Regions from separate parts of the Homo sapiens genome. Here regions 1 and 2 are each linked to region 3. Evidence: fine-mapped expression QTL. A gene starts in region 3. Each other region holds a variant in brackets. All regions are shown on one strand. Distances are between the middles of the regions.

Region 1 (8,194 bases), 23 kb before region 3:
CCCTTCTTTATTGGGCGTTTGAACTTCTGCCAAAGCCATGTGATCCTACACACGTACTGTACATGGCTGTGGTGAAGCTGGCCTGTGGAGACACCAGGCCTAACCGTGTGTATGGGCTGACAGCTGCACTGTTGGTCACTGGGGTTGACTTGTTTTGCATTGGTCTCTCCTATGCCCTAATTGCACAAGCTGTCCTTCGCCTCTCATCCCATGAAGCTCGGTCCAAGGCCCTAGGGACCTGTGGTTCCCATGTCTGTGTCATCCTCATCTCTTATACACCAGCCCTCTTCTCCTTTTTTACACACCGCTTTGGCCATCACGTTCCAGTCCATATTCACATTCTTTTGGCCAATGTTTATCTGCTTTTGCCACCTGCTCTTAATCCTGTGGTATATGGAGTTAAGACCAAACAGATCCGTAAAAGAGTTGTCAGGGTGTTTCAAAGTGGGCAGGAAATGGGCATCAAGGCATCTGAGTGACCCTGGAGTATAGAGGGACTTAATCCAAAATAAAAAAAAAACCTTTTCAAGATAATCCTCAGTATGTGAGACCAGAAAGAGCTTTTAAGAGGGGGATAATGTCTTCTGCAGAACTTTCTAGACCATTTCCAAGAATGATAAATCACAGAGAAGGGCATTCTTTCTTTCCTTTCAGAGAAGTGTAAACATGGGAAGATTCTTGCAACCTGGGTAACGTGCAGATATTGAAAACAACCCACTGTGTTCTGGAGGGTTTCTACCCTGCTGCAGTTTAGAAGAGTCCCTGCATAGCCATAAGATCTCTTCTCATTTCCTGGCACCCTTCCAATATTCCAGGCATGGATTTCTAATTTCATACCTTAGGATATACCAGCTATCTTACCAGCTGCAAGAATCAGAAGATAGGACAATATAGCCACAGTTAAAGTAGTTAAAGCCGCAAAAAATTTATCATGCTTTTCCATAAACCCTGTATTTCTCCATTAGAGCTTCAAACCAAGAGGAGAAAAAGATCCACCAGCATCCACAATGTTACTTAGTGGCAGAACAAAGCTGTGAAAACTAGAATCCTTTAGGACTTCTATGAATGAGGGCACAAGAGAGGTTAGGAATAACTCTTCATTTCTAGACATTTTCTATTTATCTCACAGGTACACTCCTGTCTCCAGCCTCTCAGGAACTAACCTAAGTCTGAATGACCTTGGATATCATCCCTCACAAGCAGTTTCCAATTATTCTTGTACATACATACAATGGGAGGACCTTTCAGAAGTCATTGACTTATCTCCTGAACCTATAAGAAATGGCCACTTACCCAAACCACTCAGAATGGGAATTCTTAATTATGAAATTAGTCTGTATTTATTAATTCTTCTATTTATTTATAATGAAAAGAAGATTAAGCTTGATTCTAGTAACTCCATGTGGTGATGGAAAGTTCCTAACTATATCCATGAAACTAAGATTGGAAACCAGTTACTGTACATACTGAGCTTTCTGTCCACTCCTCACCAAATAGCTTCAGACAATTTATCAAACACATTCTCTTAACAAATTAGCATTTTCAATTTTGAGTTCGCCAATAGTACACATTTTTTGCTTGTCATCCGCTTATATGCCATCCTACCCTGTTAGGTGGAGGGAACACAAAACTCCCTTGTGGAAGTTCACAGACACTCCTGTCCTGGGAAAGTATCAGTCCTGAGGTAGAAAGCCAATGCCCAGCTCTTCAAAGCTCTGTCTCTGTCAGGAATATAAGTGTTTTATTGGGACACTTCAAATATGTTGGGATAAACAGTGCACAAATAGTGAAACTCAGTGAAGTAGGCTGAGCACTGTCCATTTTTCAGAGAAAAAATAATCACTTTTTATAGGGAGAGTACTAGTATATGGGCTGTCACTGGTTTTAATTTTTTTATTCTAACCCTCAATTTTTTTTATTATACTTTAAGTTCTAGGGTACATGTGCACAACGTGCAGGTTTGTTACATATGTATACATGAGCCATGTTGGTGTGCTGCACCCATTAACTCGTCCTTTACATTAGGTATATCTCCTAATGCCATCCCTCCCCTCACCCCCACCCCACAACAGACCCCGGTGTGTGATGTTCCCCTTCCTGTGTCCATGTATCTAATCCTTAAATTGAGATTTTTTTTTTTTTTTTTTTTTTTGAGGCAGAGTCTCGCTCTGTCACCCAGGCTGGAGTGCAGTGGCATGATCTCAGCTCACTACCAGCTCCGCCTCCCAGGCTCACACCATTCTCCTGCCTCAGCCTCCCGAGTAGCTAGGACTACAGGCACCCGCCAACACACCCGGCTAATTTTTTGTATTTTTTAGTAGAGACGGGGTTTCACCGTGTTAGCCAGGATGGTCTCGATCTCCTGACCTTGTGATCCGCCTGCCTCAGCCTCCCAAAGTGCTGGGATTACAGGCGTGAGCCACCGTGCCCGGCCGAGATATTCTTAATAGATTTTTAAGATTTATATACAATTCTAACACTACAGTTCATCAACAAAATTACTTTTGTGTTCTCCAAATTGACCATTTTTCTAGCACAGAAACCTACAACCCCAACTGTGTAACAATCTTATACTGTATCATGGGTTTCTATACTTTGTAGAACGTTTCTAAAGTGTATTGTAAGCAATATACTTATAAGCACTGCTTGTTCATAACTTCTCACTTTAATGTGAATCTCAATGCTAGATGTCTATGTGTTCACCTTTTATGATTTACAATAATAAGTTTATATCATGATCAACCCCTTATACACCTCCGGCCACTCATGTTTGTAATATTACATTGATTTCAATTCCATAAAAAATGAAATGACAAGGAATAAACTGTCTCCAATTATAATCCTCATATAAACTTTTGATGTGTATAGCCATTATTTCCTCCTTTCTTGCTATATTTATTTATTGCCAATTTCTTTTTCCTCTCAAGAAAGCCTCTTATAATATGCCTTTGGGATCCCAGACTATCAGTTACTTCTTGGATGTCTCCTGTTTATAACCCATTTGAATTTACTGGCACATTTGCCCCATAGAAAAATTTCTCATAACCTTAGTGATTTTTTTTAAATGAAAGTTCATGAAAAATATTTTTGGAACTAATTATTGCTGCATTCTTATGTCCTATTCTTTTCTTATATTACAATCTAACTTCAACCAGAAGTTGATGTTTCCAGAGAAATACCTGTCATCAAAGCCAGCAGTAACCATTTTTTTTTTTTTTTTTTTTGAGATGGAGTCTCACTCTGGTGCCCAGGATGGAGTGCAGTGGCACAATCTCAGCTCACTACCAGCTCTGCCTCCCGGGTTCATGCCATTCTCCTGCCTCAGCCTCCTGAGTAGCTGGGACTACAGGTGCCCGCCACCATGCCTGGCTAATTTTTTGTATTTTTTGTAGAGATGGGGTTTCACTGTGTTAGCCAGGATGGTCTCGATCTTCTGACCTCGTGATCCGCCCGCCTCAGCCTCCCAAAGTGCTGGGATTACAGGCGTGAGCCACCACGCCCGGCCAGCAGTAACCATTTTTAACAGAACTACCTTAAATTGTGTTATATTATGACTTACTTCTCCAAAATCTATCCACTGTGATTTCTATGATCCCACACAATCCCAGCTTTTCTTTCATGTCTCTAATGTTTTTCATCCTCTTCCCCTTATTTTATTTTTAATGAACCTGACTTTTAAATGTTGGTGTTTCTCAGAGATCCATCTTTGGCTAACTTCTCACTCATTCCAATCTAAGTCCATAGCAATGGGGACCATGAAAGGAAGAGCTGAAAATCCAGAACAGTGTCAAGGCAGAGGGCTTCCTGCAGGAGACAGCAACTAGATGTCTATGCAGAAAACACTGTGCTCTTCATTGCATTAGGAAACTTCTCTTGCCTTTTTGTTTCTTTCAATTATGACCGATGGTGTGCTTAACTAATTCCTTCCCACTGTCATTATTTCTTGCTTCTGATGATATCATCTTGAACTCACCTTGACTATAAGCAGACTTCAAATTATATTAGTATTTGGAATCTGTTCCTTGTAAGAGTAAGCAATGTAGGATGGTCAAAAGGTACAGCCTCATCCCTTCCATTCGTGTATACTGTTCAGTTAATAGAGAATTTAGTCATAGTGTCTAATTTGAAGAGCAATGAAAACTAAAAACTTTCAGGAAGAATCATTTTCTAAGTGAGCACTGGACTAATGGACTCACATATTTGGCAGATTATGAAAAGGACATTGAGGAATTACTGCTCTATTACTTCATATTCTGCAGTCTAAGCGCTCTAAGTTGCTGAGGGTCGGATAAGTTCCTACATCTTATCCACTTCTCATTCATTGTAAATGAGCTTCTTTAAGCATTTTGTATGTTCAAGAAGTTTACTGGAAGAAAGCAGAGAAACCAGCAGGGGAGGCAAGAATTGTGATAATATCGAATTATTATTTGATGTAATACAGTAAAGGGTTTTCTGGCACCTCCAGAATTGTTGTGTACGTCTCAGAATTGTAAGCCTTTTCTCTACATTAAAAATAAGTTTCTCATTAATCTGCAGCTTCCTTCCTGTTCTTGGTCCAAACATTTCCCTAAAACATTACCAAATGGTAGCTCTTAATTTCCTCTAACTAAACATAACAAATGTATTATATCACACCTACCTACATAGGCAAACATTTAACCACATTTTCTAAGGTTAA[T/C]TGACAGGTACCATTCTTCCAATTTGAGGTAGGTCCCTGCCATGTGAGCCATGGAAAGTGGCTCTCATCACCCCTCCTTTTTTCAGCAACCATATGCTCTTATTTATCCAATTCTCTCTGACTTATCAACAATCTATTTTTCTCTCTACCAAATAGTTCATACCAACCTCCAAAGATGCATTATTTTTCCCGATTTTAAAACAAGAAATGCTTTTTAAAATTTAATTTTTATTTTTGATGTATATTTTCATTTTTAATTGACTAATATATATAAGGGATGCAATGTGATATTGTGATATATGTATACTTTGTGGAATGATTATATCAGTCTAATTAACATAACTATCACCTCATAAAGTTATTTTTTTTGCAGTAAGAACATTTTACATTTATTCTTTCGCAATTTTGAAACATACCATATATTACTATTGACTGTGGTCACCACGTTGTACAATAGTTCTTGAAAATTTACTCTTCCTGTCTAACTGAACCTTTATACACTTTGGTCAACATCTCCGCATCCCCCAGTTCCCCACCTTTTATCCTTTTCAGCATCTGGTAACCACCATTCTACTTTCTACTACAAATTACTCTAAACCCCAACTTCCAACTCTAAACTTCCAACTTCTGCCCTACATTTTCTTGTTTGTACAAACTTCTTTAAAATGTTATGTGCATAAATTTTTCTATTTCCTAGCCTTTAACTTACTCTTTAGCCCACTCCAATATGACTTTTTCTTATGCACTCCAAAAATAGACAGTTCTTTTCAAAAAGTCATTTGTAACCTCCAAGAGACTGAATCCATCAATATTACTTTAAACTATGTTTCATTAGATCTGTCAGTACAGTAAAATTATGAATCAATTTCTTTGCCTTCTTCTTTAAAAATCAATCTGTCTTTTCCTATATAGGTTATTTTCGGTCTCTTTTTCTTTCTCAACATTTACCTAGACATCATGATGAGTTTCTAGAAACTACATGCTAGACCACCTTCTTTCTGTCACTATCCTCACTTGCTAAAACATCTATTTGTGCTAATAGCATTAATTCAAATATTCCAGTAATTTCCAAATAAAATACTAGTCACTCCAGTTTTTCTCAAATTGTTCCTTTGCTCTCTGGAACTACTTTTTCCTCTCTTTGCTAAATAATAATCTCTTGGATGCTTCAAAGGTAGGCACCTCATATTGGTCATGACCTCATTTGAACTCATTCTCTTCCCTTATAATCTGGTTCTTCTCCAGTCATCCTTAGGTACATGAATGACATATTCCATTCCAGTGCATGTATGAGAAACTTAGAGTTATTTTGGGGTCATAAATATTATAAAATTTACATCCAGTATAACTTCTATATCCATCCATTTCTCTATATCTTCATAGCTTAAAATAAAGCTGTCTCACCCTTGAAGTACTGTTGTCAGTGCTCATCCAACTTACTTATATTTATTCTTGCCATGTACAATCTGGTCTTCACATTGCTGCCATGCCTAAATTATCCTAAACCTTTTCAGTGGCTCCATATTGCTTTAGCATAAATTTGCTTAAAATTATCTGACCACTATGACCTCAACAGCACCATCTCACATCACCTCCCATGTTCCACCACACCTTGAGGTTTCCAGACACATTGTTGTCACCTTGAGGTTACCTTGTTGTTACACTGAGATTACCAGACACATTGTTGTAACACTCTGTTGTTACCTTGACTATGCCTTGATCCCTCTCATTTTAACATTCAAAGATTCCTGGATAAAAAGTCTTTTTTATCCCCACCCCAACACACACACCATAGTTATCTTCTACTCAAACAATTGCCCTCAGAACAAACATTTTTTCAGGATATCCTCTCTGACAACAAGAGATTATTTTTTTCTTCATGTGAACTCTTATCACTTGGTACTTTTGCTTTAAAGCACTAATCCCAGTCTATTATTATATATTTGCTTGATTTTGTTGTTATTATTCTCTCCCCCCACCTCAACTAGACCACAATTTCAATGAGAACAGGAACGATGACTGTTCTATTGATCACTTTATGCCTAACATGTTTTTCAAACACAGACAGAACTAAATATGTATTTTTGAATGAAAGCTTTCTCCTTTAAAAATGTTTAAATAAATCTCCTAGCCACAGAATTTAGAACACCCAGAGTTTGTGTGCTTAAAAACCATTCAAACACTCTAAAATTTCTCACCTTTATAGGTCCATTTTGATTTAATAAATGAAGATATTCTTCTATTCATGTAAATTCTTAGGTTACATTAATAGGATACATGTTTTTGAGTTAATCTGCTTTCTATTCTAGTGGGATTTAACATCCTAGGAATTCAGCTTTCTCTATAGGTCTTTCATCATGTCTGCAAATGAGATCTATTATGCTTAGGTCACTGAGCTGCTTTACTACTCTCCATAAATTTCAGAAGTTTATAATTTCTGTGCCACATCTTAGCTGACAACACATTTTTATCTTGTGTTAAAGCATCTTTCTCATAAAGTTCTGTCTTTGCCCAGTAGAAAACTTCTGCCACGCCTAGGATCCCAGACTGTGAGTCTGTGTTCATAAGCAAGGTAAGTGATAAAATCTTCTCATGGTCACTTTGGCTAAATTCCAGAGAGTTCAATGGCTTATCCTAAACATTATGTTGTTTTGTCAACATTCTGCAAAAAGATTGACATTTCTCTCTGTTTTAGTAGCATATAGAGGATTAGAGGGCCTTTCCAAAAAAGGTTGAAGTCAGAATTAGAAAATATTAAGGCTCACATGGTGCACTAGAAGTTACCTTGTCTGTAATCAAAAAACAACACTGCCAGATTATCTTCAGGGTTAATATATTAACTGTTTTATATAGCAGAATCGTATTCTATGTCATGCTAGAATATAATTGTAAAAAAAATTAAAAACAATTCTTTTTCTGTGAGCTCAAACATACTACTTCTCTTAATTGTATCACACATATACAAATCAGAAAAAAATTTTAATAGAGAAAACATCAAAGATAAAATGTTATGTGATATTAGGATGTAAAGTAATAAATGAGTATTAAGTAAAAATGCCAGGCCTTGTACATCAAATGGGTTACATACTTCCACGCATCCAGGATAAAACTATTGTGTTGAACCCCTTCAGAATTCTCCTCTAAAAGCTCAAAGTCAAACTAGCTTTACCTCCATTATTGCTTGTGCTCTTTAGTCATTGAAATTTTCTGTAGATACATTTAGATAATTTTACTCTTTATCAAATTACATTCACCATTAAAGAAGGATGATTTACTCCATCATTTGGGAGTATATGTTTATTCAAACATACAGGCAGTAAGAAACCTCTGAAAGGAAATACATTTAGTTTTTAATAAGAATTGATACAACAAAAGAATTTTATTTTCTTCCAGATTTTTTTGGTATTTAACAATAATTATATCAAAAATCAACCCATAACTAATATATTAAAAATAACATTTTAACCTTTGAACATAGCTTTCCAGTTTTTGTTTCTTGCTCATAAACCTGCAATA
Region 2 (8,194 bases), 42 kb after region 3:
TTTTCACTCTGTGAAAAATGAGTAATTTGCTTCTTTCTTTCCTATTTGTATGATTTTTTCTTGCCTTATTGCACTGGTTAAGATCTTCCTTCTATGCAATGTTTACCAAGAGTAGCAATAATGAATATCTTTGCTTCATTACTAAGGACTGGGTATAATGATGCCTACTGAGGGTAATGAAACTTAGTTCCAAATGATTATATAAAGACCTAGACTAATGGTACAGTGCAGAAGCATAGCTATGCCATAATAAAAAATAATATATTTCACTTAACAATGCCCTCTAGGTTCATCTATGTTGTTGCTTGTGACAGAATTTTCTGAATTTTTTAAGGCCAAATAGTATTCCATTGTGTACATATTCCATATTTTTAAACCCATTCATTCATTGATGGACACATTTTGACTATTGCAAATAATACTGCAATGAACACGAGGTTGCAGACATCTCATTAACATATTGATTTCAATTTCTTTGAGCATATACCCAGTGAGACTGCTGGATCATATGGTAATTCCGTGTTTGATTTTTTGAGGAACCTCTATACTGTTTTCTAAAAGAACTATACTAATTTAAATTCCCAACAAGAGTGTATAATGGTTCACTTTTCTCAACATTTTCATCAACAGCTCTTATCTTTCATCCTTTTGATAATAGCCAATGTAACAGGTGTGAGGTAATGTCTTATTATGGTTTTAATTTGCAGTTCTCTAAAGATTAGTGATGTTGAGCATTTCCTCACATACTTTTTGGCCACTTGTATGTCTTCTTTTGAGACATTTTTATTCAAGTCCTTTCTCTACTTTTTATAGGGTTTTTTTTTTGGCAATTGAGTAGTTTGAATTCCTTGTTTATTTTGGATATTAGTCCTTATCCAGCATATGATTTGCAAATTTTTTTTCAATCTGAGAAGTTATCTCTCTATTGGTATTTTTGGCTATACAGAAGCATTTTAATATAATCCAATCTCAATTGTTTATTTTTGCTTTTGTTGCCTGGTGCTTTTGGGGTCACAGTCATTAAATCTTTGCCCAAACCAATGTCATGGAGCTTTTCTCCTATGTTTTCTTTTATTAATTTAATGTTTCAAGTTTTATATTTGAATCTTTAATTTATTTTGAGTTGATTCTTGTATAAGAGACAAGCTAAGGGTTCATTTATATTTTCTGTATGTGGATATCAATTTTTCCCAATACCATTTATTGAAGACAGGTCCTTTTCTTTTTAAATGTGTGGTTTGCTTCTGGGATCTCTAGCCCATTCCATTGGTCAATGTATCTGTTTTTATGCCAGTACCATGCTGTTCTGATTACTATAGCTTTGCAATATATTTTGAAATTCTGTAGTGTGGTGTCTCCAGCTTTATTCTTTTTGGTCAATATTGCTTTGACTAATTAAGGTCTTTTATAGTTCCATAGAAATTTTAAGATTTTTTTCCATTTCTGTGAAGAATGACATTGGAATTTTTATAGAGATTGCATTGAATCTGCAGATTGCTTTGGGCTTTATAGACATTTTAAGAATATTAATTCTTCCAGTCCATGAACACGAGATATCATTCCATTTATTTATGTCATCTTCAATTTCTCTTTTTTAACTTTTATTTTAGATTTGGTGGTACTTATATTTCTAATTTTATACTGTTACTATATTTTATTGATTGTCATAGCATTATAATACATTTTTAAATTAGTGTAAGCACTGTCAATTAGGTCCTTCTTTAAAAAGATTCTTTGGATATCCTTTGTCCTTTGCATTTCCATAGATAATTTAGAATTAATTGTGTAATTTCTACAAAAAGCTGTCTTGGATTTTTGTGAAGACAATATTGAACCTATAGATCAATTTGAGATTCCACAAACTGCACTCATAGGATGGCAAACTTAATTTATAAATGTTGTATGTATTCTCATTGCTACACTGGCCAGCCACTCTCCTGTCTCTCTCCCTCTTCTTGGGCCCCCCTATTCCTTCAGGCACAACAATATTGAAATTAGGCCAATAAATGACCCTGCAATGGTCACTAAGTGTATAGTGAAAGGAAGAGTCACATACCTCTCAATTTAAATTAAAAAATATATATATAAATGATTAAACTTAGTAAGAAAGGCATGACAAAAGCTGAGATAGACCAAAAGCCAGTCCTCTTATGCCAAACAGTTATCCAAGTTGTGAATGCAAAAGAAAAGTTATTGAAGGAAATTAAAGGGATACTGCAATGAACACATAAATGACAAGAAAGCAAAACAGCCTAATGGCTGATATAAAGAAAGTTTAAGTGGTCTAGACCAAACCAGCCACGATATTCCCTTAAGCCAAAACCTAATCTAGAGCAAGGCATCAACTATTTTAATTCTTTTAAGCCTGATAAATGTAAGGATGTTGCAGAAGAAAAGTTTAAGTTAGCAGAAGTTGGTTCATGAGGGAAAGAAGCCATCTCCATAACACGCAAGTGCAAGTGTTGATGTAGAACCTGCAGCAAGTTATCCAGAAGATCCCACGATCATTGATAAAAATGGATTCACTAAACAACAGATTTTCAATGTAGATGAAACAGCCTTCTCTCTCTCTCTCTCTCTCTCTCTCTCTCTCTCTCTATATATATATATATATATATATATATATTTATTTATTTATTTATTTATTTATTTTGAGACAGAGTTTCACCATTGTCACCCAGGCTGGAGGGCAGTGGCCCGATCTTGGCTCACTGCAACCTCTGCCTCCCCGGTTCAAGTGATTCTCCTGCCTCAGCCTCCCAAGTAGCTAGGATTACAGGCTCCCTTGCCACGTCTGGCTAACTTTTTGTGTTTTTAATAGAGACAGGGTTTCACCATGTTGGCTAGACTGGTCTCAAACTCCTGACCGCAAGTGATCCACTCACCTTGGCCTCCCAAAATGCTGGGATTACAGGCATGAGCCACCGTGTCTGGCTGAAACAGCCTTCTTTTGGAAGAGCATGTCATCATAGAGAGGATAAGTCAATGTCTGTCTTCAAAACTTCAAAGAACAGGCTGACTATCTTGTTAGGGGCTAATGCAGCTGGTGACTTTAAGTTGAAACCAATGCTCATTTACCAATCCCCAAATCCTAGGGCCCTTAATAATTATTCTAACTCTATGTTGTCTTTGCTCTCTA[T/C]ATAGAACATCAAAGCCTGGATGACAGTACATACGTTTAGAGCATGGTTTATTGAATATTTTAAGCCCACTGTTGAAACCTACTGCTCAAGAAAAATGGATTCCTTTCAAAATATTCCTGCTCATTGACAATGTGCCTGGCAACTCAAGAGCTGTAATGGAAATGTACAGGGAGATTAATTTATTTTCAAGGCTGCTCATACAACATCCATTCTGCAGCACATGGAACAAGAAGCAATTGTGACTTTCAAGTCTTATTTATTTAAGAAATACATTTTGTAAGACTATAGCTGCCATAGATGGTAATTGTTCTGATGTGCATGTGTAAAGTCAATTGAAAACCTTCTAGAAAGGATTCACCATATTAGATACCATTAACAACATTTATAATTCATGGGATGAGGTCAAAATATCAACATTAATAGGGGTTAGAAATAAGTTAGTTCTAACCCTTATAAATGGCTTCGATGGAGTCAAGACTTTACTGGAGGAAATCACTAAAGATGTGATGTAAATAGCAAAAGAAATAGAATTGAAAACGAAACCTGATAATGTGACTGAATTGCTGCAATCTCATGATAAAACATGAATAATGTGGAGTTGATTTTTGTGGATGAGCAAAGAAAATGGTTCCTTGAGATGGAATCTACTCTTGGTGAAGATGTTGTGAACATCGTTGAAATGACAACAAAGGATTTTGAATATTACCTGGATTTAGTTGAGAAAGCAGTAGTATGGTTTGAGAGGATTAACTCTGAAAGCTGCTTCACTGTGGGTAAAATGCTATCAAATAGCATTACATACCACAGGCAAATCTTTCATGAAAGTAAAAGTCAATCAATGGGGCAACATTTATTGTCCTATTTTAAGAAATTGCCACAATCACTCCAAACTTCAGCAACCACCACCCTAAGTAGTCAACAGCAGTCAAAGACTCTCCACCAGCAAAAAGATTATGGCTCACGGAAGGCTCAGATAATCGCTAGCGTTTTTTAGCAATAGCATATTTTTAAAAAGGTCTATATATTTTTTAGGCATAATGCTATTGTATACTTAATAGACCATGGTATAGTGTAAACATACATTTTATGTGCACTGAGAAACCCAAAATTCATGTGACTCACGTTATTGCAGTGGTCTGAAACCAAATCTGTGCTATGTCTAAGGTATGCCTGTATTATAACCAGATAAATAGACTTCATTTTAATTTCTCACACCTATTCATAAGTATATTATTATATATGCATAGCATTTATAAGCAGATATACCTGCTTAATACAGTTTTAATTCAGAAAACAAACAAAAAGCAAAAAAAAAAACCGAAGTAAGGATATTTTTCAAAGATTTTCTGACTTGAGGAACTTTGTAGCAGAGTCTAGGACTTGAAGCATTACCTAGCATCTGATAGCTTACTATTTATTTAAGTATTATTTTAAAAATGCTATTAATATTGTAACTCAGCAAGTTTTAAAAGGAAAGCTGACATCTATGTTTTTCATTTATTAGCTATCTGCTCTGGAATAAAGCTACACACCACCATATTGTTAATAATTGAAGACTCACTCTGGGCTGAAGCTCTATGGCATAGAGCTTATTTTATGTGTTTCGGTAAGCGAGCTGGCTCACTGAAAAAGAAAAAAGGACCTACATTTGTGGGGATTCTGTCCATCGTAGCTGCTTGTGCTAGAAGAAAGATGTGCCATTACATCATATTACTGTTTACCGTTTTCTCCTCTCCATAGACTGCATTCATTCTACAAACCCAAGGTATTAAATTGTGGTCACGATGTTCTTTGATTCCTTTCCAGACATCTGTCTACTTTGAGGATAATTTCAATCCCAGCCTTTGATGTTTCCTTAAACTTGATCAAGATGTACTAACGGGGATTGCAACAGAAAAGAATGCTATATTTCTACTGAAGTAAAGGGGAACAGTGATGGAGAGACAGTGCATTTAACAGTGTTAACCTTTCAAATAAAGACATAACTCAGCCTTATTGCAGAATATATATTTTAATGAGCCCCTAGCATAAAACATTCTGAAATTGTTTACTCAATATTTTTGAGAAAGCTTTAAAATACCCACATGGCACATGAATAAATATATAAAATGTTATGAAACTGGAATGGAACTGCCCTAGGGAGTCAGGTAAAATTCCAGGTTTATGATTCAATAGATGCTAGACACTTCACATGTCCCATCAATAATAAAATTTGAGATTTTTTTCTGTCAGGCATAGACATATTCTAATTATAGATCTATTTTCAACAAAGGTAAATTCACCTCCTTTTCAGAGACCTATGGGACATCTATCTGTAAAGCCCCAAAGAATTTTTTTACCTTGGCTTGGAAAATCCCCAGAGAAGATATTAAGTTTGTTACATAGGGTTCCTCATCAATATTGTGCAATTATTTCTAAGTAATATCAGTCATGAATGGGAATTTAAAAACATCTGGCACCAGGGTGAGTTTGGATGAAAATGGTTCAGATAAAAAGAAAACAAATATATAAAATGCACAAAATTGCTACTATATAGGAGGGATTTAAATGAGAGAGCAGTTGAATAAGGAAGTTCTGAATTACTTCACTCTTTAGAATTTTGAAACCAAGGAATTTGCAAATTGCCTTGAGGAGGGAGAAGAGGGAGAAAATTAAATGTAGTTTAGGTCCTGAAGGAAGGGGATTCCATGAGGCTGATGTGACAAGGACCAAAGAGATATAGGCAAGCATATTTCTATACAATAATAGAAAAACTTCTCTGCCCTCCATAGATGGAAGAGTATTCCTCAGGAAGCAGTAACATCTCTACCATTGAAAATGAATTAGTGTAAGAGTTAGGATGGAGGGTGGGAAGACGGAAAAGATCAGAAAAAATAACTAATGGGTACTAGACTTATTACCTGAGTGATGAAATAATCTCCACAACAAACCCCCATGACAAAAATTTAACTATGGAACAAACCTGCACTTGTATCCCTGAACTTAAAAGTTAAAAAAAAGAACACTTGGAAGAAATTCTAGTGATCATGTAGCCCAAGTTCTTGACGACATTAATGACATATGCCGTTTTCCCACTGCTTGATACCTCAGATGGCAGTGATCCCATTATCTTATTAGAAAATTTTATCTGTGTGAATGGGCAACATTCCTCAAAGCCAAATTTACATTTCTGTAACATTTTTCTATTTATAATATGTTTATTTTGGGGATATGCAAAATAATACAAAAGACAATTTGCATGCATCTACTACATGTACTCTTCCCAATTCTAAATATCTCCGATTTCATTAATTTTTAATTTTTGTAGATAAGATTAAGGACATCTTGAAACTTGAAATCATGTCTTCCTAATACGTTTTTATTTTTCAAAGTTTATTGTGACACTAATTTGTTAAGGTATTTATGTATAAGCAGGAGAACCATCCAAAAAGGAGATTTTAGAATTTATTCATCCATCCGTTCATTATACAGCTTGGGATGAACATAGCAGGCATTGATACTGCAAGTAGAAATATCTTTAATTGTACATGTTTGTTAAGCTTGAGAAAACTTCAGTAGGTATGGATGGACTGAGAGAATGAGAATTAGAATACTGGGAGATACATTCAGATATTTAAAAGAGCCCTAATTGTGTAGGATTTTGTAAACAAATATAAGGATGTTGGTGTTTGCTCTGAGTAAGACGGAAGTATCCAGGAGGTTTTAAGGGATGGCTGGATATAATTTTATTTTCACTTATTTTGTAGAGCGATATAATGATAATAATACTAACAATAATTGTGATAGTATTACGTATTTTTCTTATTATGTTCCAGGTTGTGCTGAAAAATTACATGGTTTACTTTACTTAACATTAAAAGTATTTTGCCTTAAAGCAAAATGCTTTAAAAATAATCAGTTCTATTTTTTATTGTTTTCTAGAAGGTTTTACTTTTATCTTTTTTATATACTGAGATTATTTATACAGCAACACTTGAAAAGATTTCCACTGATTAATGGTTAAAAAAAACTCTGTAGAAAACTCTAGGTTAAATCCCATCACAGCGATAGAGACAGACGGACACACACACACACACACACACACACACACACACACACAGAGAAAGAGAGAGAGAGAGAGAAGCAATCAAAATTAGAACTTTGAAGAAGGAGATTAACATATAACAGAAGATAATATAAAATAATTTGTTAAACTGCAATGATATGGAAAAATGAATAATTCAATTTGGTAATCTAAAGCAACCAATAACTGGGGAAATATTTTTAAAAAGAATGAAAGAAAGAAAGAAAGAAGGAAAGAAACAAAAGGTAAGACTATGGAGTCTCACTTTAATCAGAAAAGCTTACAAGGTTAGATTCATGTTTCAGACTTCAGAAGAAAGATGGAAAGCTAACCATTCTCAAAAACTGGACTAAAAAATTAGTAAAGATTTTATCCTACCCAATATAATTGTCTATAGTTATTTGGGGGCTAAAAATGATACATCAAAAGAAGGTATAAAATTATGATCATAGGTAATACATGTACTGTATATTAATAGTATATGTAAGCACACTTAAAGAGTGATATATATCATGGATTTATCATATGTATCATGCTTATATATATCATGCTTATCAACATAGAGATTTGAGGAGAGTTAACAAAAAGCATGAAAATTACGTAGAGCTTAATAATGTTATTAGCTAAATGCAAACATTTCAAAAATATTTCATGCTTACCATCAAGAAACCTGAAAGAATACAAAAAGAGACGAATACAAAATACACATGGCCATGATTTATAAATTGTAACTTATTATGTACCTTTTTGGCCCTTCCCATCTCTGTCCTTGATTTTTCTGACTTGGAAAATCCAGACCTGCCAGGTTTACACTTGTATATAGATCAAGCTGAATCATAATAGAAGTGCATAATTGGTAGGTGCTGACATAATTTGATTAACTATAACCCAGTGGACACATCTCAAAGTATTTCTTGAAAGAAGGGATAGTTTGTAGTGAATTAAGAAAATCAATGTTACTTAAATAGAGTTTATAATTTGGAAATTGGTT
Region 3 (8,194 bases):
GCATGTAATCTCAGAAGCAAATTATTCTATTTTCGGTTTAGGAGATATTTATGCTTCCCCTAATTTCTCTACCTACTTCTAACACATGGATACTTATTTCACATGCAGTGGAACCATGAACACATACTTGGATATGTGCAGGTTCAATACAGATCTACAAGTATATTTTTCTCCACCCAGGTAATTGTTCTTTCCACACATAATTCATTAAGACATTAAAAATAGCATTTTCCATTACTTGAAATGGTCACTTTAACTCCAAGAAAAGCTGCAAAAGTGCATCCTGAGCTGCTATTTACAAAGCAATGTATAGCCCAAAACAAGCACTGAGCATCACATTTAATAAGACACTGTTCAATATATTAAAGTGAGATGGAGAAAAGAATCGTGACACTATTGAATAGTTTATACTAAATTTTTATAAATTATTGAAAAAGTAGTTTTATAAATGGATTATTGCCACTGTCACTGTCAGTTATTTTGCTTAATAATATATTGTAAAACATCTGAAAAATGAGGTATATGTAAAAAATCTGAAAAATATAATAGTGACTACAAATATAAAATATAAATTCATAGTTTATAAATTCTGTCTGAAAGGCAGAATCCTGTAATTTTGATGTTCATAGAAAAACATTTCATGTATTGAAGACTATCTTTTATGCTTTTACAAAATAATAATTAACATACTTCTGAAAATTCCAAAGCTAAAATTTCAATTTTTGAACCATTCACTTACCTTAATTAAAAATTTAAAAATGAGTTTATAAGCTGCTATGTAATGTAAGTGTAACTTTGGGAGGTCCTCATATTAACATTGTCCCTCCATATCAACAAAGTGAGAATGTGAATTTAAGTGCTTTTCGTTATTTGTGTTATAGAAAAACCTTATCAAACTTGGAAAAAAAACAATTTGGTACAATTACCTTTAATTACACAATGCTAAGCGTTTTGTCTTCTCAAAGTGATCTTGACTTGAGTGTTTTAGCTTTGAATTCTTTTTTCTAGTATTAGTATATCCTAAGTATGAGGTATACTGTTTATCTAAAAATATTATGTTTGTATATATTTTTAAACCTTTGTGTATAATTTTCATTCTGATGAAATCTTATACTGCATATATAATTTTTAAAAATTAGTTGGAATTATTTCAACTTGATGGGAAGTTTAAATTATTTTTATATCCAAAACCAATGTTTGTTCTGCCTTTGTCATCTTTTTTTTTCCACTTTGTATTCTCTGTTTCTCTACTTTATGAGAGAGATGCCTTATGTTGTTTAGCTTTTCTAGTAATCTTAAGTAAAACTTTCTCTTTTTTTTCCTTCTAGTGGTTTCTTTTATACATTCCAAGTAATATTAGGTTGGTGCAAAAGGAATTGTGGCTTTGCCATTACTTTTAATGGTAAAAACCGCAATTATGTTTGCACCAATCTAATAATACTTAGATTATAATTTAATAATTATCAAAATAAAGTGTTTCGGGTGAGTCATTCACTTTTTCATTTACTTATTTGTTTATTTATTTTAAAATTGACATTTATTGAGTATCTAATATGAGAGATTTGATTTGCTCGGCTCTGAGGATGCTTTACCAGACACTGTCCTTACATCGGTGATTTCACTGAATTTTGGAGAATTCCTAAATATAAGTTGATTTTCATAATATCATGAGGGAAATATTATTAAAGAGAATAATTGTTTGAACAAATCAATTTCTTACCCCTAGTCAAGGCTATTGGTAGCTACATTATCTTAAAATAATTTAAAGGATGGGTCGCTATCATGTCCAAAGGACATTTGAGACCTCCTGATGATGGTTCTGCTTGAAGAATGTATAGGGATTAGCTACATTTGAGGGGAGTGGGCAAAGGGAGCACCAAGGAGATAGAGGTTTGCCTATCACAAAGCTGAGAATGTCAGTGCGATATGAGTAGGAAACAGCAAACAGCAACAGAAGAAAATGCTGTTCCTACCACTTTGACCTGTCAGAATTCTAATCATGCTCCAGGTCTGGAAGCATCTGTCCTCTTCTCTAGGAGCATCTCCTGAGGCTAGGTTAGACACACAGGTGCTCCTATGACACCCAGTATAACTCTGACATTTTGTAATGACTTGAGTACATATCTTTGAGGAGCATGCCTATTAACAAGTTTAACCTGTGTTTTTCTACTATTTTCAAAACAAGTTGCCTTTTGATAAATCTGATCTGTCCTCTTCATCTTACCCAATAAGGCAGAACATGTGACTGTACTTCCTATCAGATGCTAATCTTAAAACAGTGTATTTTATTAATGGAGGTTAGGATGAATACCTCCTCTGATGGGGCACAAAAGAGAGTTCATTTGGTGGCACTCATGATTCCTATGGTGTTAATTTTTGTAAGCATTGCCAAAATGGCTGCCAGCCTGAGTAGAAAATACAAATATGGGTATTGAGCACTTAAAATGTGGTAGCATGTTTTAACATATTACGTCCTTTAATCCTCTTGGCAATTTAATTTTTGTTATTATAAATTCTAACATACATATGCAATTTTACAATTAATCCAATTACATGTTGATTGATTTTTACAACCTGAATCTTGTATATCTCACAACCAAATCAAGTAAGGGAATATGACCAGCAACTAACAGGACCCTTCTACCACATACTGCCTTTCAGTTATCACTCTCTCTCACTTTTTAAAAAGATTTTTCTATTTCTAATAGCACAGAATAATTTGATCCGTTTTTGTATTTCATTTAAAGATCACAAGATGTTACATCTATTTTAAGTCTTTCTAAAAAAAATTAACACATATTGTGAGATTCGTCTATATTATGCATATAGTCATAGATTGTTTATTCTTATTGTTACGTGGTATTTCATTGTGGGAATGTACCAAAATTTATTTACCCATTTGATGTTGATGAACATTTAGGTTTTTTCCAGTTTTAGGCTATACTACAAATCATGTTTCAATAAGCATTCTAATTGATGTATTCTAGTAAATATATATACATAGTTTTGTTGGAAATGGCAATGGTGGTCATGTGTATGTTTATCATTATGAGATATCTAATAAAGAGTTGTTCTAATTTACATGTCTACCAGCAGTAAATGAGAGTTCCAGTTGTTCTACATCTTTGCCAATGCTTGGTATTTTTAGTTCTTTTCATTTTAGCTGTCCTGTTTGGTATGTCACTACATACCAAAAAAAGGTGCTTTGTCATGAGAGATACAATTTTTACTTATTTTTCTGATTAATATAAAAGTTTGTGCCTATTTACCTGTTCATTGGCAATTTTATTTCTCTTTTGAAGTGTATGTTTCTTCCTGCAACTTTTTCTTACTGATGTTGTTGAAGTACTTTATATATTTTCTGTATGTATGCATTTGGATATCTTCTAGTTTGCGTTGACTAGATACATAAAGAACAAGAAAGATATCTTGAAAAGTGAAAAAATTGAATCAAAACTTCATTGACTTTTTTAATTTTAAATTTTTGTGGGCACATAGTAGGTGTATATATTTATGGGTGTATGAGATATTTTGATAGAAGCATACAATGTGTAATAATCCCTTTTAAAGGGCCGGGCACAGTGGCTCATGCCTGTAATCCCAGCACTTTGGGAGCCTGATGTGGGTGGATTACCTGAGGTCAGGAGTTGGAGACCAACCTGACCAATATAGTGAAACCCCATCTCTGCTAAAAATACAAAAATTAGCTGGGCGTGGTGGCATGTGCCTGTAGTCGCAGCTACTCGGGAGGCTAAGACAGGAGAATTGCTTGAATCCGGGAGGTGGAGGTTGCAGCCAAGATTGCGCCACTGCACTCCAGCCTGGGCAACAAAGCAAGACTCTGCCTCAAAAAAAAAAAAAAAAAAAAAAAAAAATCCCAGTAAAGTAAATAGGGGTATCCATCATCTCAAACATTTATCCTTTGTGTTACAGACAACCCAATTATATTATTTTAGTTATTTTAAAATATACAATTAAATTATTATTGAGTATAGACACCCAATAAATTTACTAATTTTTGAGACCCCAAGCTTCATTGAGTAATAATTTAATTAAAATTTCAAAATTCTTTGAACAGTGCCTGAGTACCCAAGAATAAATATCAGTCAGTCATTAAGAATAAAAATTAAAAAGTCAACATCTCATCTCTCAGATCATCAGTGAGGTAATCAAATGACTCTTCTTTAAAATTATATCTATATTGAGATGAGTATAGTTATAGTTAAGTAAGATATTCTAATAAAAATACCATTTGAAAAGTCAGAATTATACTTGATTATAAATCTATGAGATTGGGAATATGTCTTTTTATAAAATAATTGATGTTTGATTGGCATCTGTGTTGAAAACTTAGACTGCTCAATAAGAATTTTTTACTGAATCAATTAATTAATCAATCAATAAAACTAAACAGACAAACAAAATTATTTCTTGGCACTCAGAAATTTGGTTGTTGGACCATTAAAATGCATTATGGAATTTTTAAAAGTTGGGGGAGAGGGAGACAGTAAAAATAACCTATATTTTCTCTTGTTTTTTTTTTTAACTCTAGGAAAGCCCAGACAAATTTTGAGCTATTTCATAACCTACCAGACTTATCATGCTAACACTGAATAAAACAGACCTAATACCAGCTTCATTTATTCTGAATGGAGTCCCAGGACTGGAAGACACACAACTCTGGATTTCCTTCCCATTCTGCTCTATGTATGTTGTGGCTATGGTAGGGAATTGTGGACTCCTCTACCTCATTCACTATGAGGATGCCCTGCACAAACCCATGTACTACTTCTTGGCCATGCTTTCCTTTACTGACCTTGTTATGTGCTCTAGTACAATCCCTAAAGCCCTCTGCATCTTCTGGTTTCATCTCAAGGACATTGGATTTGATGAATGCCTTGTCCAGATGTTCTTCACCCACACCTTCACAGGGATGGAGTCTGGGGTGCTTATGCTTATGGCCCTGGATCGCTATGTGGCCATCTGCTACCCCTTACGCTATTCAACTATCCTCACCAATCCTGTAATTGCAAAGGTTGGGACTGCCACCTTCCTGAGAGGGGTATTACTCATTATTCCCTTTACTTTCCTCACCAAGCTCCTGCCCTACTGCAGAGGCAATATACTTCCCCATACCTACTGTGACCACATGTCTGTAGCCAAATTGTCCTGTGGTAATGTCAAGGTCAATGCCATCTATGGTCTGATGGTTGCCCTCCTGATTTGGGGCTTTGACATACTGTGTATCACCAACTCCTATACCATGATTCTCCGGGCAGTGGTCAGCCTCTCCTCAGCAGATGCTCGGCAGAAGGCCTTTAATACCTGCACTGCCCACATTTGTGCCATTGTTTTCTCCTATACTCCAGCTTTCTTCTCCTTCTTTTCCCACCGCTTTGGGGAACACATAATCCCCCCTTCTTGCCACATCATTGTAGCCAATATTTATCTGCTCCTACCACCCACTATGAACCCTATTGTCTATGGGGTGAAAACCAAACAGATACGAGACTGTGTCATAAGGATCCTTTCAGGTTCTAAGGATACCAAATCCTACAGCATGTGAATGAACACTTGCCAGGAGTGAGAAGAGAAGGAAAGAATTACTTCTATTTGCCTCTTATGCAGGAGTTCATAAAATCTTTCTGGAAGCACTGTATTGATCACAAAATGGAGTTTGTTAACTGGTGCATTCTCAATAAGTACCTTGGGAATCTCAACATCATTGGAAGGCCCACCAACATTTCTATAAATTTTTTACCTTCTCACTCATGTGAAGGACCAGTCTAATAATTAAACCATATTTTATTCGACAAAACCTAATGAGTCCATTTTTTATGAAAAGACAAATCTAAGTAGAAGGAGATGATGTGAGTCTTCTTTTCAATGATCACAATTTTCAGATTAATATTTCAGATTAATAGCCAGTTATTACTTTTGTCTAGAAAACATGTGCTATATATTTCTCATAACTACCAAAAACCTGTTTCTTCAATGACATTTTCCTGAAGGAGAATCTAGAGTGCATGCCATAAAGTCTAAAATGAGTTTTAAGTCTCTAAGCATCTAGCTAAAATATTATTAGGCTGAATAGGTCACATAATTATTTCACAACAGAATAATTGGATATTTCGTTTTCTTTAAAGGGGCTTTTTAAAAAGCACAGAGCCTGGAAAGAGAGGTAGAGATCTTAACCAAAAATAAAAAACAGTATAATTTTTTTCTAAGACCTGTATGAAAGGGGATCAAAATCTACTTGTTTCATTTTATCTCTAATTGTGAATCTAATAAGGAAAATTAGGTATATATTTCTAATATTTAAGATTTATCTAAATTAAAAAACAAGTGAGAAACTATAGAACATAGTATTTTCATATTAATGTCTCATAAACTAAGCCAATTATATAAGGAATATAAACTCAACTTTTACTGTTATTTTTCTGTGTCCAACTGACAAGAAAACATGTACTTCCCTGAAATTTAGTTAACTATAGTCGTCAAATTGCATTTATTCACTTAGTGAATCCTTCTTGACTATGTTGCATTTTACAAGCTGGCCAAACAGCAGTACCCACTAAAATATTATTATCCTCCATGTATCGCCCTATTTCAATATTTGCTACCCTAAAGCTAAAAGTCATCAGTATTCTCTTTACTTCCTCAACCTGACATCACTCTTCTCCTAGTTTGTCTTTCTCTTATCCCAGTTGTTATCTGAAATTGCTATTGTCAACTTCACCAATGCTTTTCCATGTTAACAAACTAAATAGTCCTCCTTCTTTGCTCATCTCACACTCTCTCAGGAATATTGATTTCAACTCAGTATTTCCAATATCTTGAAACACTATATCATTTTTATTTACTTCAGAGACACTACATATTTCATTTATGTAATACACTTTGTTTAACTTTGATTTGTTTTCTACATTCTCTTCCTAGGTGTTCTCCTTTAGTGTCATGGTCTTAAGTATTGGCTATAAAACTAATGATTCCCCAAAGGAAGCTAAGGTTCAGAGAACTGTTTTCCACGTACTTATTCTTCATGGCATACTATCTTTCTTAGACAGGTCAATATCTCCTTTTTCCCCCTGCATTCTCCATGTCTACTCCAATTTTCCATGTCCTGCTCCTCCAGTTTATCTCCCAGTGATTTTGGCATAACGTTTGTTATATTTTAGTTTCCTTAAAAATAGATGTTATTATTCAGTGATTTTATGTGTTTTAATTTAAATACATTTTATTGTGCTAAACAACTTAATCTGCTAATTTCTCACTCAATACTTTAAGATGTATTTATCTTAAATATCTTGGAACATGTATTTATATTTTATACTTGTCAATGTAATGTATATTACTTATTTCAAAATTGTTAAGTTGGCTAGATACAGTTTTGATAAAAAATTTGCATCTACTAACTTCACAACACACAAAAATCACCTGTGCTTCCATACACTATCTTGAACAATGTGAAATGGAAATTAAGAAAACAATCTTTTTTACAGTAATAATATTAAAAAGAATATAACACTTTGGAATAAATTTAACCAAGAAGGCAAACACTTATAAACTGAAAACTACAAAACTTTTTTTTAAAGAAGATGCAAATAAATGGAAAGATATTTTATGTTCACATTTTAGAAGACTTGCTAGTGTTAAAATTCTCGTACTGCATGAGGTAACTATGAACTTAGTGCAATCCTTATTTAATTCCCAATGAAAATTTTTATAGAAATAAAAAAGCAGTGCTAATATTCATGTGGAACCACAAAGGACTATAAATAACCAAAACAATCTTAAGAAAGAACAAAGTTGAAGGCCTCACACCTCATTATTTAAAAACATATTATAAAACGACAACAATTAAAACAGTATGTATAAATAAGTGTAATAAATTAAAACAGCACAGTATTAAGACACATAGACCAATGGAATAGAGAGCTCAGAAATAAACCCATGCACATACGGTTAATGGATGTTCAACAAGGGTGGCAAGAAAACACAATGGGGAAAGACATTCTTGTCAACAAATGAATTTGGGAAAACTGAATATCCATATGCAAAAGGATGAAATTGGACTCTTATCTTACACCACATACAAAAATAGATTCAAAGTGGATCAAAGACTTAAACCAAAGAACTAAAACCACAAAACTCCTAGAAGAAAACAAAATAGAAACATTTCATAACATTGGTC

What was found. PIP is the estimated chance that this variant, and not a neighbour inherited with it, causes the effect.
Region 1: its variant is the best candidate, but not a certain one, in a credible set for the expression of OR52N4 in whole blood (TOPMed, PIP 0.65).
Region 2: its variant is the best candidate, but not a certain one, in a credible set for the expression of OR52N4 in blood mononuclear cells (TOPMed, PIP 0.90).

The regions. Positions count from the first base shown.
Region 1 is chr11:5,726,986-5,735,179 of GRCh38, forward strand. It overlaps a transcript of OR52N4 not described here and the pseudogene OR52P1. Among named protein-coding and RNA genes, the nearest start is that of OR56B1, 5.4 kb to the right of the region's middle. RefSeq lists a silencer at 7,180-7,380. The variant T/C (reference allele first, on the strand shown) is at 4,679.
Region 2 is chr11:5,791,830-5,800,023 of GRCh38, forward strand. No RefSeq gene overlaps it. Among named protein-coding and RNA genes, the nearest start is that of OR52N1, 4.7 kb to the left of the region's middle. The variant T/C (reference allele first, on the strand shown) is at 3,140.
Region 3 is chr11:5,750,141-5,758,334 of GRCh38, forward strand. It overlaps OR52N4 (olfactory receptor family 52 subfamily N member 4), which reads left to right and starts at 4,103. Exons shown (of 2, transcript NM_001005175.5): 1 at 4,103-4,165; 2 at 4,553-5,818. The coding sequence starts at 4,601. The coding sequence ends at 5,566.